Linked DNA regions of Homo sapiens. The protein of the gene in region 2 purifies or fractionates together with the protein of the main gene of each other region. This does not show direct contact. Each region holds a gene or a part of one and is shown on either strand. Other genes may lie near its edges.

The links.
Region 1: the proteins of SPG7 (region 2) and CHIA purify together in Homo sapiens (co-immunoprecipitation; one large-scale study listed by IntAct). This does not show direct contact.
Region 3: the proteins of SPG7 (region 2) and HTR7 purify together in Homo sapiens (tandem affinity purification; one large-scale study listed by IntAct). This does not show direct contact.

What each region holds. Positions count from the first base shown.
Region 1 is NC_000001.11:111,317,957-111,321,063, forward strand, and holds the end of CHIA (acidic mammalian chitinase isoform c precursor), read left to right. Parts: intron 1-29; coding exon 30-153; intron 154-536; coding exon 537-722; intron 723-1,163; coding exon 1,164-1,283; intron 1,284-1,370; coding exon 1,371-1,512; intron 1,513-2,256; coding exon 2,257-2,510; 3' UTR 2,511-2,607; downstream 2,608-3,107.
Region 2 is NC_000016.10:89,547,792-89,553,410, forward strand, and holds part of SPG7 (mitochondrial inner membrane m-AAA protease component paraplegin isoform 1 precursor), read left to right. Parts: intron 1-211; coding exon 212-322; intron 323-903; coding exon of another isoform or gene 904-926; exon of another isoform or gene 927-991; intron 992-2,702; coding exon 2,703-2,818; intron 2,819-5,187; coding exon 5,188-5,344; intron 5,345-5,619. UniProt on the Homo sapiens protein: Catalytic component of the m-AAA protease, a protease that plays a key role in proteostasis of inner mitochondrial membrane proteins, and which is essential for axonal and neuron development.
Region 3 is NC_000010.11:90,851,540-90,855,039, forward strand, and holds part of HTR7 (5-hydroxytryptamine receptor 7), read right to left. Parts: intron 1-3,500. UniProt on the Homo sapiens protein: G-protein coupled receptor for 5-hydroxytryptamine (serotonin), a biogenic hormone that functions as a neurotransmitter, a hormone and a mitogen.

The DNA of each region.
Region 1 (3,107 bases), on a different chromosome or scaffold from region 2:
ATGATTTTAAATCCTCCACCCCACCTCAGGTACCTGGACTACATCCATGTCATGACCTACGACCTCCATGGCTCCTGGGAGGGCTACACTGGAGAGAACAGCCCCCTCTACAAATACCCGACTGACACCGGCAGCAACGCCTACCTCAATGTGGTGAGTCCCTGTACAGATGCAAGAGCAGACCAGAGATGATGATGAAAATCACATAGAGATTCAGGCACAAAAGGCATCATAAGTTTAGTGGTTTTCTCAAATGGGAAATTAGGCTGCCATAATTAATTAAATATTCTCATTTAATTTCACACAGAGACTGGGACACAAAGTAAACATAAATTCTGCAAGTGTCTCACTTAAACAACTGTCCTCAAGTTGATCGTATTTCATTAACTACAACTTCACCAAAATGTTTTGAAAAAAATACTAATCCATCTGGAATTAACAGCATAGAGTTTTACCTGTCGGAATAGGGGACTAATATAACTAAGTACTGGGTCCTCAGCTGGTTGGGCCATGTAACTAACCCACTGACATTGCAGGATTATGTCATGAACTACTGGAAGGACAATGGAGCACCAGCTGAGAAGCTCATCGTTGGATTCCCTACCTATGGACACAACTTCATCCTGAGCAACCCCTCCAACACTGGAATTGGTGCCCCCACCTCTGGTGCTGGTCCTGCTGGGCCCTATGCCAAGGAGTCTGGGATCTGGGCTTACTACGAGGTATGTAGATTGGACTGAAAAGTGCTCTGTGAATTCCGTGCACTGTGCCTTAGGGCTAGAATCTGCTGAAATCTTGAATGTTCATTCTGTCTCCTACCTAAATGCTTTAAACACAGCTGCTTAAAGTGTTTAAATAGCATTCATTTACATAATCCAAATGAATAGCATTTAACAATGCATAATATCCCTTCACACAACAGACTACCTTTTAAATGTAATTTATATTAGCACACAGGTAATAAAATAAATATACCTCTCATATTACTGTGGGTTCCCAAAATCATTTGACAAGCAACTTGATCCTCTTTACTACAAATAAAAACCTGTAACTAGAAATTGAGCAAAACCCCAACTGGAGACATGAAAGAAGAAAAATTTGAAACATGTTTTTCTTTAATGGGAGTAACATTTAATAGATTTGAATCTCTTGACTTTTGAAAGATCTGTACCTTCCTGAAAAATGGAGCCACTCAGGGATGGGATGCCCCTCAGGAAGTGCCTTATGCCTATCAGGGCAATGTGTGGGTTGGCTATGACAACATCAAGAGCTTCGATATTAAGGTAAGATCAGTCCCTTAAATGTGCTGAGGTCCCAGCCCTGAGTCCCAGGAAAGCAAGTGATTCCTGTTATCCTCTTTCTTTAAACAGGCTCAATGGCTTAAGCACAACAAATTTGGAGGCGCCATGGTCTGGGCCATTGATCTGGATGACTTCACTGGCACTTTCTGCAACCAGGGCAAGTTTCCCCTAATCTCCACCCTGAAGAAGGCCCTCGGCCTGCAGAGTGCAAGTAAGTGACTGAGGGGGAATGCCCAGGTGTATAAATACCCCTTCTCCAACTCAAAAAGCAACCCTGATGTCTTCCCACCTCCCCCTTGCCCAGGGATCCTCTTTCCACTTCACCTCACCGCTCTTGCCCAGATGAGAGACAGGTTTTACCCTTGAACGGCCATGTCAGGAACATTGTGCACTTATGGGAAGCCAGGCCTAACTGGGTGGGTGTTCTAAGTCTGCTAAGTCTTAAGGGTGTGGAAGAGCCTCAAGAAATTATACTAACATCAATATAAGTATCTGCTTCTCTATGAATCCCTTATTCAAAATCTTTCTCAGCCCACCTGGGGAGATTTAAGAAACCCTCACCAATGCTCACATATCTCTAATCAGTGATTCAGGGGATGTATCAATTCTCTAAATTTTTTCCAGATTTTTCCTAGAATTTATTTGTTCACCATTTATGCCCAGATTCTAGAAAAGTGTTTTGCATACATTTGGTGGTTAGTAAATTTTTTTTTGAATGATTTAGATGTTATAAGGAAAGAGCAACCTTTTTTTACAATTAAAAGCCAGGCTGGCTTGACACAATAGCTTTATTTATCTCCTGAATATGGAGCTACTTTCTCTTCTCAGTTGCAGGGATCCAGAGCCAACTGCACCCCACCTCCACACTTCCACTCCCACAGTTCTCTTCACCTCTAGGTGAAGCTTAGAGCCTCTCCCAAGCCCACTAGTCTGCTCTTACTGCTGTATGTTTCAGGTTGCACGGCTCCAGCTCAGCCCATTGAGCCAATAACTGCTGCTCCCAGTGGCAGCGGGAACGGGAGCGGGAGTAGCAGCTCTGGAGGCAGCTCGGGAGGCAGTGGATTCTGTGCTGTCAGAGCCAACGGCCTCTACCCCGTGGCAAATAACAGAAATGCCTTCTGGCACTGCGTGAATGGAGTCACGTACCAGCAGAACTGCCAGGCCGGGCTTGTCTTCGACACCAGCTGTGATTGCTGCAACTGGGCATAAACCTGACCTGGTCTATATTCCCTAGAGTTCCAGTCTCTTTTGCTTAGGACATGTTGCCCCTACCTAAAGTCCTGCAATAAAATCAGCAGTCAAAACATGACTGTCCTTGCTTTTAAGTGATTTGGGTGGAAACCTCTTCCAGATATGAAAATAGGGGCTATGCATGGGGGTGGAGTGGTGGAGTAGAGTGTGAGAGGAAGTGGTGGAGCTAACAGCGCCACAGTCTTCTATCTGCCTGTGTTCATCTGCATGAAGGTTGGAAGCTGTAAGGAGGAAATGTCTGAATGTTTGGTGCATGGGAGGGATGAGGATATGAAGAGGATAGGTCTGTCACCAGGCAATTTTCCTCAGGAAGGAGCTGAAGTGCTTCTGTAAGACTGGGGGACATAAGCAGTGCTGCCTGGCTTGCTCAAGGAGTGGAAGACTGGGACATCCTCTCCACTTCTACTGAAGTGGACTGGCAGCTTCGGGAAGATTTGTGCAGTAGACTCCATTTAGGGTTTCTGCCTAGCCCATGGGCCAGCCAGGCTCCCTTTCTCAGGAGATGACACCTACCATTGGAATCGTAGTGGTGGCCACCAGCTGCTGTGCTTGTAT
Region 2 (5,619 bases):
TAGTAGCAATAGGGTTTCACCCTGTTGGCCAGGCTGGTCTCAAACTCCTGACCTCAGGTGATCTGCCCACCTCAGCCTCCCAAAGTGCTGGGATTACAGGGGTGAGCCACCATGCCCGGCCATCTTTGTTCTCCCTTGAGGGCCCCTTCCTCCTCTTAAGCCCTGATAGCAGAAACCCACCCACCCACACCGTGGCTGTTTGTGTTGACAGGGGCTGACATCGCCAACATCTGCAATGAGGCTGCGCTGCACGCGGCGCGGGAGGGACACACTTCCGTGCACACTCTCAACTTCGAGTACGCCGTGGAGCGCGTCCTCGCAGGTACAGGGGGCGCGCCCTGGGTGAAGGCCCTCCTTAGCAGGGCTTGAACCCCAGAAATACCCAGGCAGGTATTGAGAGGTGAGGTGGATGGAACCATCACACAGGAAGGAACACACGTTGCGTTTCAGTTCTGCGTAACTCATGTCTTTATGATACCTTGTACTTTTCCTTAGTTTAAAATATCACAGATTTACCTAAGAGTAGACGCTCGTCCAACAGAAATAAAAAATGCCTTGCCAAAGAAAGTGAAAAAATAAAAATAAAAAATGCCCCCCAAAAATAAAAATAATAAAAACTAAAAATGTCTTGCCAGCCTGGGTGTGGTGGGCTCAGCCTAGCCCCAGCCTCATGGGGGCTGAGCTCCAGCCGCTGACTGTGGGCCGGAGGGCTGCTGCCGCCCGTGGCTGTGGAGGGACAGCCGTGCTTTCAGCGCAGCAGGGGCTCTGCGGAGAGGTGTGGATCTGCAGCACCACCTCTGGTGAAACTCATGGTCCCGACCGTCAGTAGGAACGGGAGATGAGTTTTGGTGACGGGTGACCGGTGGGCTGACCGCCTCTGACTGCCGTTCCGTGGCTGCTCAGTGTGGGGTCTGCGACGTCTGTGAGGAGAGAGGACCAAACTGGGAATCGGAGCTGCTGGAGGTTTCCATAGCTATGATGGCAACACCCAGACGTGATCAGTCATCTCATGGAATGGAGTTCAGACCCGCACTGTCAGTGTGAGACAGGTTGAACGTTTGAAAAGGGAAGTGGTTCTTGCCCCAGGTGTTTGAGGAGCACGAGCCTCCTTTGCGAGCTATCCCTGCGAGAACCGAGTTCCTCACCCTCAATTCGAGTGAATTCCTAGCACGAACACGCCTCTTGCAGGTCCCCAGGGCTTCAGCTTGGGAAAGCAGTGGGTTCCTGCAGAGGAGTGGGGCAGCTGCTGTGCCAGACACTGCAAAACACACCTGGCTTCTCTCCGACAGCCCTGCGGGTCGAGAGGACTGGCGCTGCCTGTGTCTTACTGAAATTTATTTTCGTGTAACCATTTACTTTTATGTGGAAATCGAAAAGCTTTTGATAATAGTAGCAAAGCAGGAAGGACTGAGTGGGAACCACAAGCCAGTTGAAAGAAAATACATGACGTACTTGAGTGCTCAGGACCACGAGCTGATTCAAGTTGTACAGAATGGACACTTACAGATGTGTGGAAAATCTGAGACAGGAAATGAAGCCTCACCAGTAAGCTGAACAGGGGAGATTTAATGCAAACATTTGTCCCTGGCTGGGCACTGTGGCTCATGCCTGTAATCCCAGCACTTTGGGGGCTGAGGCAGGAGGGTTGCTTGAGGCCAGGAGTTTGAGACCAGCCTGGGCAATACAGCAAGACCCCATCTCTTAAAAGAAAAGAATAAAGAGTATTAGCCAGGCATGGTGGTGGAGCACACCTCTGGTCTCAGCTACTCAGGAGGCTGCAGCAGGAGGATTGCTTGAACCTGGGAGGTTGAAGCAACAGTGAGCCGTGATCGCACCACTGCCCTCCAGCCTGGGCAACAGAGTGAGACCCTGTCACTGACAGAAAAAAAGCCTTGTCCCTGAGGCAAAAAGCTTCTGAAGGGGTGAGTAGAAGCCATAAGGATCCAGAAAGTGATGGGGATGGGAGCTGCGCCTCCAGGTCTGAGGGGAGAGGGAAAGTAAGCAGGAGGCCCGTAACTCAGAGGAGGCCTCTGCCCATCCTGCCAGGGAGAAAGTCAAAAGCTGCTGTTCTGTGACCCTTGCCCCGACCCTGTGGCACCCCCCCAACCATGGGGCAGGAGGAGACACTCCTCAGAGGGTTGCACTTGTTCCTAAAAGCAGCAGGAGCTATTTCGATGATTGCAACATTTATAAAAGAAGAAATCACGACCTCCTTCAACAGCCCTTTGACCTGAAGAGTGTCGTTTTGAGTTGGGGTGTCCAGAGCCGCAGCTGCAGCTCCAAGAGGCAGATGTGCAGAGAGAGGCTTGCTTTGACCACACGGGGCAGGAGCAGGGCCCAGCCAGGGAGAGGCCGGGGTCTCAGCTCACCCCCCCGTCATTCTTTTTTGTTTGTTTTTTGAGACGGAGTCTTGCTCTGTCGCCCAGCCTGGAGTGCAGTGGCATGATCTTGCCCTACTGTAACCTCCGTCTCTCAGGTTCAAGTGATTCTCTTGCCTCAGCCTCCCAAGTAGCTGGGACTGCAGGCGCCCGCCATCACACCTAGCTAATTTTTCTATTTTTAGTAGGGACGGGGTTTCACCATATTGGTCGGGCTGGTCTCGAACTCCTGTCCTCAGGTCATCCGCCCGCCTTGGCCTCCCACAGCGCTGGGATTACAGGCGTGAGCCACCGCGCCCAACTCATACCCCGGCATTCTTTCAGGGACTGCCAAAAAGAGCAAGATCCTGTCCAAGGAAGAACAGAAAGTGGTTGCGTTTCATGAGTCGGGCCACGCCTTGGTGGGCTGGATGCTGGAGCACACGGAGGCCGTGATGAAGGTGGGTCTTGGCAGGTGCCGGCTCCACGGGCCTTGGCCAAAGGTGGGTGGGGAGTCCCGCCTGTGTCTGTAGCTGACTGGGGAGTCCCGCCTGTGTCTGTAGCTGACTGGGGAGTCCCGCCTGTGTCTGTAGGTCATGTGAGAGGAAAGCCTGCCACTGTCATGATCCATGGAGCAGGGTGGGTGGCGACTGATGGGCGGGAACTCGGACGTGGGAGGCAGGAGTGGGCTGTGTCACATCGGAGCATGGTGCTGCTACTGGGGTGACTCGTGGAAGGTTACACCATGCAATGGGGTTTCGCTGCCTTTGCCTGTCCACCCCAAATGACTCCTAACATTGGAAAGAAGTGAGTTGAGTGTACATTTAAAAAATACTATTCTAGGCTGGGCATGGTGGATCACCTGAGGTCAGGAGTTCAAGACCAGCCTGGCCAACAGGGCAAAACTGTCTCTACTTCAAACAAACAAACAAAAAACTACTCTTGTAGGCAGCTGTGAACTCGATGGACATTTATTCTTACCAAATGGTGATGTTACAGCTTCTCTAAGACGTGGCTCCACCACCGGGAGTCCGAGTGCTGCCAAGAGGAGGTCTCTACTCGGAACGCAGGTGCCGTCTTTACAGTGGAGCCCCAGGAAGCCGTGCAGGTTTGAGGCTCACCTGAGAAGGCGGCAGTGCTGTGTTCCTACCTCAGGGTTCACTGCAAACAATGCATACGCTGTAGCAGTTGCCAGCTTGGTTTGTCAGTGCTGGTCTCCGTGATTGGTTCTCAGGTGTGAGTTGTAGCAAAGTTGCGTGTTAATCAGAGAGCGTCCTGCCCATCCCAGGGTCTCAGCAGGGCTGAGGCAGCGTTTGGGGACCAGATCCGTGCTGCTCCTTGGCGATGTGCACCACAGTCATGGGACCAGAGCTAGGCCCACTGTGGGGCGAGTGGACACTCAGCTGGGGGTCCCATTTATGGGACACTAAAAAACTCAGCAGTGAACACGACGTTTTAACACGGTATGTCAAGAAATCAAAATTAATGCAGGGACTTTGGGAGGCCAAGGCGGGCAGATCACTTGAGGTCAGGAGTTCGAGACCAGCCTGGCCAACCTGGTGAAACCCCATCTCTACCAAAAATACAAAAGAATTAGCTGGGCGTGGTGGTGCGTACCTGTAACCCTAGCCACTTGAGAGGTAGAGGCACAAGAATCGCTTAAACCCGGGAGGCAGAGTCTGCAGTGAGCCAAGACTGTGCCACTGTACTCCAGCCTGGGTGACAGAGCAAGACTGTCTCTCAAAGGGAAAAAAAAAGAATTTTTACTGTATTTGATGGGCAAAAGTCAGATAGTCACAATGAAAAAGTGAGTCTCTTTCCCAAGGCTCAGTGTCCTGCCAGGAAAAGGTTGTGAATTGGCTGTTATGGTTTTGGTCATTAATGCAATCATCACTGCAGCCGTTATTTAGAGCTTCTTTTTGTTTTGAGACAGGGTCTCTCTCTCTGTTGCCCAGACCGGAGTCCAGTGGTGCGATCACAGCTCACTGCAGCCTCGACCTTCCGGGCTCACACGATCCTCCTACCTCAGCCTCCTGCATAGCTGGGACTACAGGCATGCCCCACTGGTGGCTCGAGTGATTTTTATATTTTTTGTAGCGAAGGGGTCTCGTTATGTTGCCCAGGCTAGTCTCGAACTCCTGGGCTCATGCAATCTGCCCACCTCTAACTCCCAAAGTACCGAGATCACAGATGTGAGCGACCCCGCCCAGCCTAGTTTTAGATTTTAAATTAAGCGTCCTCGGGATTCTCAGAGCACTTGGATGTGGCCATCTCGCCGCCACAATTCTCAGAAGCAGCAGCTGGGCCAGCCCCTGCCCCGTCTCCGTCCGTCTCCCACTCAGCGGTTCCGTGTTGTCGAGTTAGCTCGTTGCCCCGCGCCACCTCCTTGCACACCTGATGTGGGGCTGTGGGGGAGCAGCAGAGGTGAGGACAGCCTCTGCTGCCTCAGCATCGTGGGGTTCTCATTGCTCTGAACCCTCAGTAGCTGTCGCTGGTGTGAGGGGTCAGCGCAGCGGCCATCGGGGGTGAAACTTGTCCTTCGCCTCTCAGCTGTCTTCTACGGGCCTTGTCTTCTTGACTCCCTGCCTGTCTAGTCATGTATGAGAAGACACTTCCCGGCAGTGTGTGAACAGGCACCTGTGGTGGGAACGCTGCTGTCTCTGGGCTGGCCATCTAGAGTGTTAGGATCCCCTGTTGTTGTAGAGGATGCTGCACATTTGCCTTCCTGCTTTGAGACGCTTTAATGACGGAGACCTCTTAGTCCCACACCTTCCTCCTCAAAGCCCACGCATCCTGCCTACTGACCTGGGTCATCTTGACCTTGTGCCAGGTCTCCATAACCCCTCGGACAAACGCCGCCCTGGGCTTTGCTCAGATGCTCCCCAGAGACCAGCACCTCTTCACCAAGGAGCAGCTGTTTGAGCGGATGTGCATGGCCCTGGGAGGACGGGCCTCGGAAGCACTGTCCTTCAACGAGGTCACTTCTGGTGAGGAGCAGCGGCGCGGGCCCTGGAGGTTTCAGAGCGCTTTTCCCTGCATGACTCCTTCTGTTCCAGTGCATGCCATGGGGTGAATCTGGTGTAGACGTAGCTTTGAATTTATTAAGTATTTTGTAAAAGATAAGTTGTGGTCATAAGAGAGTTGGAGCTAAGCAAGACTTCTTAGATAATTTAATTGGACAAAAACTTAACCTATATGCCAACTCTAGACACATTTAATTGGTTAATTGTTGGTAATGGCTACAGGAAACGGAATAAAATTG
Region 3 (3,500 bases), on a different chromosome or scaffold from region 2:
GCTTGCAGTGAGCTGAGATCACACCACTGCACTCCAGCCTGGGCGACAGAGTGAGACTCCGTCCCAAAAAAAAAAAAAAAAAAAAAAAGAAGGAAGCTGAAACAAAGACATTTTCAGACAAGTAAGAATTGAGAGGATTTGTCACTAGCAAACCCTCAGTAATATGGTTTGGCTGTGTCCCCAACCAAATCTCACCTTGAATTGTAATAATCCCCACATGTCAAGGGCAGAGCCAGGTGGAGATAACTGAATCATGGGGGTGGTTTCCCCCATACCGTTCTCCTGGTAGTGAATAAGTCTCACAAGATCTGATGGTTTTATAAATGGGAGTTCCCGTGCACAAGCTCTCTCTTGCCTGCTGCCATGAAAGACATGTCTTGCTTCCCCTTCACCTTCCACCATGATTGTGAGGCCTCTCCAGCCTTGTGGAACTGTGAGTCAATTAAACCTCTTTCCTTTATAAATTACCCAGTCTTGGGTACGTCTTTATTAGCAGCATGAGAACAGACTAATACATTCAGTAAAAAAATAATGCTGGGCCGGGCATGATGGCTTATATCTGTAATCTCAGCACTTTGGGAGGCCAGGGTGGGAGAATTACTTGAGGCCGGGAGTTCAAGACCAGCCTGGGCAACATAGCGAGACTGTCTCTTTATGTGAAGTAAAAAAAAAAAAGTTTTTAATTTAAAAAAATAATAATGCTAATAGGCATCTAACTGGGCAGAAGAAAATGATCTCAGATGAAAATGTAGTAATGCAGAACAAAACAAAGAACAATGGAAAAGATAAACATGTAAGCAAAGAAGAATGAATACGGACTGTTACAACAATAAAAATAATATCTAATGGGTTTTAATAATCTGTAGACCTAAAATGAATGACAATAATAACATAAAAGGTGTGAGGGGATAGATAAAATTAAAATGTTCCAAAGTACCTTATTACCTAGGATTGTATTTCCCCAAAATAAATTTAAACATATCCACAAATGACTTGCACATAAATAAATGTTCAGAGCAGCACTATTAGAGATAGCCAGAAACTAGAAAAAAACTCAAATGTCCATCTACGGTGAATGGATAAGCAAATTATGGTATATTTATACAACGGAATACTACTTATCAATAAAAATGAATGAACCACTGATAGGCTAAAAACTACAGATGACTCTCACAGACATTATGTTGAGAAATAGAAGCCAGATTCAAAAGAGTACATACTATACAATTCCATTTATATGAAGTTCTAGCCAAGCAAAACCCCAATGCATGATGCTAATGTCAGGACAATGGTTCCCTTTGCAAGCAATAGAAACTAGAAAAGGAGAGGAGGGGACCTCTGGGAGGTTGCCAGTGTTCTATTTCTTAATATAGTTGTTTACATGGATGTGGAAATTCATCAAGCTTCATCCTTAGAATTGTGCACATACATATACTTTTCTATATGAATTTCAAAAAGTTTTAACAAATATTTCAGTCATACAAAAAGTTATACAAAGGATAATAAGTCTATATCCACCACCGAGATTAAGAAACAAAACATTACCAATATAGGTGATATATATACTACTGATTACACCACCACCCACCCCACCAGAGATAAATCACTGTCCTGAATTTGGCGTCAACCACTCCCTTGCACTATTTTATACTTTTACTCTTTCTACAAGCTTCCCTAAATGATATGTAAAACTATTTTTCATGTTTTAAAACTATGCATAAAAAGTAATTTGATTTCTTTTTTTTTTCTTTTTTTTTTTTTTTTAAGACAGTGCCTCACTCTATTGCCCAGGCTAGAGTGCAGTGGTGTAATCTTGGCTCGCTGCAGCCTCAACCTCCTGGGCCAAAGTGATCCTCCCACCTCAGCTTCCCAAGTAATTGAGAACACAGGCATTTGCCACCATGCCTGGCTTTTTTGTTTCTTTTCTTTTCTTTTTTTTTTTTCCGTAGAGATGGGAGTCTCCCTGTGTTGCCCAGGCTGGTCTTGAACTCCAGGGCTCCAGCAATCCTCCAGCCTCAGCCTCCCAAAGTGCTGGGATTACAGTTGTGAGTCACCACATCTGGCTGGTAATTTGATTTCTATTTTTAAAAGATCATTCTTAAATTAGCACAAGGGAACTTTCTTGGATGACAAGATATTCTATATCTTGATTAGAACATTAGTCACATAGGTATATATATTTGTCAACATACAAATTGAATATTTAAGATCTGTGCATGCCATTATATGTAAATTATCTCACTTTAAAAAGTTTCTAAATAGACCATTCTTGCTTCTTCTTAGGGAATAGCTCGGGGCTGGACAGAAGTGGAACCAGGAAAGCCAATTAGAATATTGCAGTAAACCTGATGAGCATCAAAGTCATCTATCTAAAGCGCAAGGAAGAAAAGACAACTTATGGATACAATTCTTTGAGCAGCTTAACTGTGAAGCAGAGCCGTGGCTGGAGGAAGAAGTGAGGCCAGAGGCCAAAGAAGGGTTTTAAAAGATAGAAAACCAAACTTGACACAGTAGAAAGGAAAAGCTGAAGAAAGACCATCAATAAGCTGGGCCTGGTGGCTCACGCCTGTAATCCCAGCATTTTGGGAGGCCGAGGTGGGCGGATCAGTTGATGTCATGAGTTTGCCAACATGGCAAAACCCCGTGTCTACTAAAATTCAAAAATTAGCCGGGTGTGGTGGCGTGCACCTGTAATCCTAGGTATTTGCAGGGGCTCAGGCACGAGAATCACCTGAACCCAGGAGGCGGAGGGTGCAGTGAGCAGAGATGGCACCACTGCACTCCAGCCTGGGTAACAGAGTGAGATTCTGTCCCCCTCCACCTCACTCCCCCCAAAAAAACAACAAAACAATAACAACAAAAAAGACCATCCATGAAGAAACAATAAAGGAACAAAGACCTTGAGAAGGTGGGGAGATGGAATATAAAGTCCAAGTAGTTTGGTATTTGCTGGCTCACAATGTCTTTTTGCTTTTTAACTGGAAAGAAGTAAAAAGAAGGGTACACATGCAGGACAGATCAGATTGTTTGGTGGGGGAAAGATAAAAGTTCTCATCTGATGGCTGCTACTTTTTCAATGAATACAAATCATTTTCTGAAAAAGACGGGATGGGAGCTCTGAAGCCTGTGAAAAACAGTATGGCATTACATTAGAAAAGCATCCCGGTGTGATGGGGAGTGGTTAAGAAAAATGAAAGGTTCCATTTTAGACAGGCTAAATGCCCAACAGATATCCAAACTCTCCAAATACACAAAAGCCTGTAATGAGCACAAAAGCAACAATATTGTAATTAATCTTTGATTATGCTGCACAAAGCACAGTGTAACCTATATTAGGTACTCAAGAGGGAATGAACAAGGGAATGAAGATTTTTTTTTTACATATTTTCACAGCACATTTAATATCATCTGTCATATTCTACAACGGAATTGCAGAAAACATGCTTTTCAGAAATAATATATTTTCCTTTTTTCTCATTTTTAGTTCTCAGTGTTCTTGG